Linked DNA regions of Homo sapiens. The protein of the gene in region 1 purifies or fractionates together with the protein of each later gene. This does not show direct contact. Each region holds a gene or a part of one and is shown in the gene's direction. Other genes may lie near its edges. The genes, in order: ZNF304 and DNAJC10.

Region 1 (3,393 bases):
TTAGAGCATTTTTTGTTGTTTATTATTTTGAGGGTTTTTTTTTTGTTTTTTGTTTTTTGTTTTTTCAGAGAGTCTTACTCTGTCACCCAGGCTACAGTGCAGTGTTGTGATCATGGTTCACTGCAGCCTCAAATTCTTGGGCTCAAGTGATCCCCCCCACCTCACCCTCCTGAGTAGCTGGGACTATAGGTGCATGCCACCACGCCCGGCTATTTTACTTTTTGTAGAGATAAGGTCTTGCTACGTTGCCCAGGCTGGTCTAGAGCTCCTGACCTCAAGCGATCCTTCCTCCTTGGCCTCCCAAAGTGCTGGGATTACAGGCTTGAGCCAGTGTGCCCAGCCTGATCACACCTTCTTATGCAGGTGCTTTTGGCTCTCATGAAGTTTTAATCAAGCTCTCAGCCAGTGTTGTGGTCTTACCTGAGAAGAATCCACTTACAAGCTCACTCACATTGCTTTTTGCAAGATTTAGTTTCTTGTGGCTTGTTGGACTGTGAGCACTGTTCCTTGCTGGCTGTTGGCCAAAGTCCTCCCTCAGGTGGCCTGTCTGTATTGTACCTTATGACACAGAAGCTAACTTCTCTTTGAGCAAGTGACCAAAAGAATGTTCAAGATGGAAGCCCAGGATTGTAACCTAATCTTGAAAGTGTCATTTCATTATTTTTGCCATATTCTATTCCTTGGAAATAAGTAAGTCCATCCAGCTTACAATCAAGTGAGGAGGCTTACACAGGGGCAAGAGTACCAAGAGGTAGGGATCACTGGGACCATCTCAGAGGCTGTGTTCCACAGGCCTTTACACCCACTCCGGTGTCCTTGGTGGGGTTTGAGTCTTCTTCTCTTCCCCATGGGCCACTCTTTCTGTCCATCCAGATCCATGACTCTTCTCCTTCCCTTCTTTGTTTCCCAGAGTAGGTGCTGTGGGTTCTAGGGCTGGCTGTGTTCAGTGTTTCTGCCTTCACTGGGTAATCTGAACATCTGTTGCCCTAGAGCTTTGCAGGAAAAGGTTAGGATTCGGGAGTTTTTCAGTCTGCTAAGCAGATTCTACACAGCTCAGGTGCCCACTGCCTGAGTCCGTGTCATGATCTTTGCACCTCTTTGTCCTAGATTCTGCCCTCATCCTCTGGCTGACATTTCCTGGGGCCTGACTGTGCCAGGAATTTCAGGGGCTGACACAGTCACTTCTTGTGGTGATTACAGGGCTGTCCTGGTACATCCGCCTTGGAGAGTATTTTTTCTAAACATTCTATTTTCTCTGTGGAGTGGGTCTACCTGCGCCACTCACCTGCCCTTTGTTTGCGTTACAGCTTTCATTTTCCCAGTCCCATGCAGTTGCGCAGTTGGAGGGGGCAGAAAACCTTGGGTGCCTGACAGGGCAGACATCACTGCAGCCACAGTAAAGGAGACCTACAGAGGGCATGGCCCTGCTGAATGGGAGCTGGAAGAGGGTATCTGTTATGGTTGGGTTCAAATCGAACCTTCAACTTGTTTTGTGTTTGTCAGTGTTTTGTTGCCAAGGCCCATAGTGATTCTTCACATCTACTTTACTTTCCTCATTCTTGGCACTTTTTCCATTTGTCATTTCTCACGTGTCTTCCATCCTTTGGGTGTTTTCCCACTTTTCTGGCCTCCGTGTTTCAATTGCTCTCTTCAACACTAGCTTACTTTAATGTGTCATGAGTTCTGCACATTAAATAGTCCGTGAGAATGAGCTACTTATTTGGAGTCAGATTTTCGTGGGCATGGACATACCCATCTGCACAGAGCTCACCTGACACCAGCGGCCAAGGCCCTGCTGAAACTCTCTTGCAGAGGAATCAGGTAGAGGCTTCACCTATACTCCCTATACTCTATGCCATTGTTTTTAGGTCTTTACCTCATAGTCAGGGTTCCTCCATTCTGTGAGGCCCTATACTGACAACCAGCCCTTCTTTACACTGATCCTGGCCCTCTTGTCCTGCCAACAAGCCAGTGGACTCGCACTGGTGTTAGACACACATTTGTGATGGGGCTGCTGCCTCCCACCAAAGTCAGCATGCACTTCACCAGCTCTTTTTTGCTTTCAGGTTTTTGGTGTGAAGCAGAACATGAGGCACCTTCTGAGCAGAGCGTTTCTGTAGAAGGAGTGTCACAGGTCAGGACTGCTGAGTCAGGTCTTTTCCAGAAAGCACACCCATGTGAGATGTGTGACCCACTCTTGAAAGACATTTTGCACCTGGCTGAACACCAGGGATCACACCTTACACAGAAACTGTGCACACGTGGGCTGTGTAGGAGAAGATTCTCGTTCAGTGCAAACTTTTACCAGCACCAGAAGCAACATAATGGAGAGAATTGCTTCAGAGGGGATGATGGAGGGGCCTCATTTGTGAAGAGCTGTACAGTCCACATGTTAGGGAGATCCTTTACGTGCAGGGAGGAAGGGATGGACTTACCAGATAGCTCTGGCCTTTTCCAGCACCAGACCACTTACAATAGGGTGAGTCCATGCAGAAGGACTGAATGCATGGAGTCTTTCCCACACAGCTCCAGTCTCAGGCAACACCAAGGAGACTATGATGGACAGATGCTTTTCAGTTGCGGTGATGAAGGGAAAGCCTTCCTGGACACCTTTACTCTTCTTGACAGCCAGATGACTCATGCTGAGGTGAGACCCTTCAGATGCCTACCATGTGGAAATGTGTTCAAGGAGAAATCAGCTCTTATTAATCACAGAAAAATCCACAGTGGAGAAATATCTCATGTGTGTAAGGAGTGTGGAAAAGCCTTCATTCACTTGCACCACCTAAAAATGCACCAGAAATTTCACACTGGAAAAAGACACTATACATGCAGTGAATGTGGGAAGGCCTTCAGCCGCAAGGACACACTTGTTCAGCATCAGAGAGTTCACACTGGAGAAAGATCTTATGACTGCAGTGAATGTGGAAAAGCCTACAGCAGAAGCTCCCACCTTGTTCAGCACCAGAGAATTCACACAGGAGAAAGGCCTTATAAGTGCAACAAATGTGGGAAAGCCTTTAGCCGTAAAGACACACTTGTTCAGCACCAGAGATTTCATACTGGAGAAAGGCCTTATGAGTGCAGTGAATGTGGAAAATTCTTTAGCCAAAGCTCCCACCTTATTGAGCACTGGAGAATTCATACCGGGGCAAGGCCCTATGAATGCATAGAATGTGGAAAATTCTTTAGCCATAACTCTAGCCTCATTAAACATCGGAGAGTCCACACAGGAGCAAGATCCTACGTGTGCAGCAAATGTGGGAAGGCCTTTGGCTGCAAAGACACACTTGTTCAGCACCAGATAATTCACACTGGAGCAAGGCCTTATGAGTGCAGTGAATGTGGGAAGGCCTTCAGCCGTAAAGACACACTTGTGCAACACCAAAAAAT
Region 2 (3,183 bases), on another chromosome or scaffold:
CAATAATCTAGAGAATCAGAGAATTGGATCCTGAAACACCTTATAAGTTCAGTCCTGTTGATTAGTATGTTTCCCTGTCCTAGAGTGCATGAACTTTCAAAGCCAGGACACAATCTTGTTCACTTTTCATGCCATCATCTTGACACTCAATACATGTTCAAAGAGTAAATTAAAGAAAAAAGAGATGCTCAAGTCAATTTATAAGTAATCCTCACAAATGCTTGCATACCATCAGTGAACAATTATTTTTTTATCTCCATGCTATAATCTTGCACAAGTTTCATTAGAATTAAATGCACTATCTGAAGTCTATGTTTATTAAATGAGGATTACAGTAGTTGGTTATCTTTGTGAGGGGTTTTGAGGGTTGTGGAACAGGATAACATTTTGAGGTACAAAAAATAATGAAGAGGATATATTCCAATTTCTTTCCTTCCCCAAGGCTTTTCATTACAGCTGTTATAAACCCTGGTAGAATTGATTGGTTTCCTTTTCAGCTTCCTGTTTTGTCCCTCAATGTTCACAAAAGTCCCATCTGATAAATGTATTGTTTAACCTCTCATTGTTTGAAAGAACACCTCTTTGCTCCCCACAGATTACAGACCTATTGGCTTAAGCAGTCCATCTAAATGCATGCCAGTTTCTTTCTTGATAAATTAGAGGCCTATAACCTCAAACCAGTTTATCTGCAAGAGAAGTGTGTGAAGTTAGACTCAATTCTTCCGCTAATGGAACATCGTAATCCTCCTTGTCATCTTTCCTTTGGCCTTCCTGAATAGAAATCATTTATGAGGAAGTTACATGAGCTCAACATGAGCCCCATGTCACTCAGCAAACATTTATTTGAGTACTTACAATGTGCTAGGCTTTGTTCTATGCATTTAAGATAGTGTATTAAATGTATTGACCTCATGAAGATTCTATTCTCGCAGTGGGGAGATAGACAATAAACAATTAATATAAGCAAATGTTAAGTATGTTAGAAGTATGTTAGAAGATGTGCTGTGAAATAAAGAAAAAGGTAGACCAGGGTATGAGGGATTAGGAGTGTGGGGGCAGCAGCAGGAGAGTTTCGGTATTAAATAGGGTGGACAGGGCAGGTCTCTTGGAGAAGATGCCATTGAAGGAGGTGGAAAAAATGTAGCCACTAAATGGGCTGAGGGTAGAGCATATGAACAGAGAGAAAGGCCAGAGGACAGGCTCCAAGGCATGCTTGGCAGGTTCAAGGAACAGCAGGGAGGCTCATGTGGCTGGAATGGAGTGAGCTAGCAGGAGAGAAGATGAAGTTAGAGGGAGAGAGAAAGTGGGGAGCCAGATCATAGAGGGCTTTGCAGGTCACTTGTAAGGACTTTAGCTTTCTAACTTTTGTAAGGACTTCAACTTCTACTCACAGTGAAATTGTGAAATTCCAGAACCAAAAAGAAGATCCTGGTAAAAGAGAAACTTTCAGCAAAATATATTTAACATTTTATTTGAGTGAAGAACAATTCATCCATCAGGCAGCACTGAGAACCAGAAGACATTCAGAGAGCTCTGCTTTGCGAGGTATGCAGTGAACATTCATAGACAGAAAACAAAAATTAAGTACAGAAATAGCTTGATTGGTTACAGATAGGCATTTGCCTTATTTGGACATGGTCTGCTCCAAATAAGGCAAGTTGGCAGCATGCAATTGGCTGTGACCTATCTGTTACAAAAATATATCTATATAATCCTAAATTAGGTTTCAGTTTATTTAAGTACTAAATTAGGTTGCAATTTATTACATGGGAACTCAAAGTCTGGAGACAGCCTCAGGCCAAGGTCCTCTTGCTTATTTAATTTAGCAATCCTAAAATTTTCCAGAGAGGAAACACATCACACACACACACACACACACACACACACACACACACACACACACTACCTACAAAAAAATAACAATTAGAAAGTAATTGGAGCTTGAAGTATTCTAGAAGACTTTGGAGCAAAGCCTTCCAAATTCTGAGAGGAAAATATTTTTAACCTAGGATTCTATTCATACCTACCCAGACTAACAAGTAGCAGGCAGATGATAAATATATTTTTAGGTGGTTAGGTGATGAAACACCTCCTCCAAATGAAGGCATAAACAACAATGCATGGGGATCCAAGAAACAGTGACTCCAACCCAAGAGAGCAGTGAACAAATCCACAGGACAGCAGCTAAGTAGGAGGCCTAAACATCACCTGGGGCAGATGGGGCGAGAGAGCAGAGAGCTTGGGAAAGAAGTCTCTGAGGAGAAAGAATGAGGCAATAAGTCAGATGCGTATTTGCGGACCTCAGAAAAATTTGAGTACATAGGAAACAATAGATGAAGGATAGAAATAATCCATTCAGATTCTCTCCTTTGCATGATGACCACATTAAACTTACAGAGTAAGAAATGTCATTCTAGATTTGATTCTACTGTTTGTCTTTGCAGTGAGCTATGTTTTTTTATAACATGTAGAAGTGAAATAAACTTGTCACAAAAATGCAAATTGTGTCACCAATTTTCAGCTTAACAACATAAAAATAATTATATACACTGACCCAGGTTAAGGACGGGTAGAAGTACGAATGTCCTTATCTTCCAGAGTGAAGTGAGGCTGTAGTCAGGCATTGCAAACTCACATAGTTAAGGGTGTTTTGTAGGTAAAGTACATGACGGTAGTTAGTGCATGCACTATTTTAAAAAGGCAGTAGTTTCTCTGCTCCAAAAGAGTATTGTCATGAAGAAAGAGACCCAGATGTTCCAGTTTACCCAGAATTTACCCCAATCCGGGTTTTTATGTAAAATATTTCAAATGTTCACAACTACTTAAAACATTTAAATATATGAGGGTCAAACAATACCATATCCAGCCTGGGGTTTCCAGTTTGTGACATTGCTACAGCAGATGGATAAGAAAATGAAGTAAGGTGTTTGAATGTATGAAATTAACCAGTATAGATGTTAAACTGGCAGCAGCAGCTCTAGAGTATGGAAGGGCCATCCGGTCAAAGTCAAGGTGAGGGGAATTTTTTTAAAGCTGTGTTGGCATTGCAAGGATATTATTTGCATTTATTGGGGAGGAGGGTAGGGGGAATTGGGGAGCTAAAATTCTTTCCCCCCAACACTTGGAGAGCAGTGATAAAACTATATTGGGAAGGAAGAGGTAAGGAAGAAGAGAAAAAGTGTA

The links.
Region 2: the proteins of ZNF304 (region 1) and DNAJC10 purify together in Homo sapiens (co-immunoprecipitation; one large-scale study listed by IntAct). This does not show direct contact.

What each region holds. Positions count from the first base shown.
Region 1 is NC_000019.10:57,353,964-57,357,356, forward strand, and holds part of ZNF304 (zinc finger protein 304), read left to right. Parts: intron 1-1,307; coding exon of another isoform or gene 1,308-1,448; exon of another isoform or gene 1,449-1,821; intron 1,822-2,066; coding exon 2,067-3,393. UniProt on the Homo sapiens protein: Acts as a transcriptional regulator and plays a role in gene silencing.
Region 2 is NC_000002.12:182,791,963-182,795,145, forward strand, and holds the end of DNAJC10 (dnaJ homolog subfamily C member 10 isoform 1 precursor), read left to right. Parts: 3' UTR 1-2,502; downstream 2,503-3,183. UniProt on the Homo sapiens protein: Endoplasmic reticulum disulfide reductase involved both in the correct folding of proteins and degradation of misfolded proteins.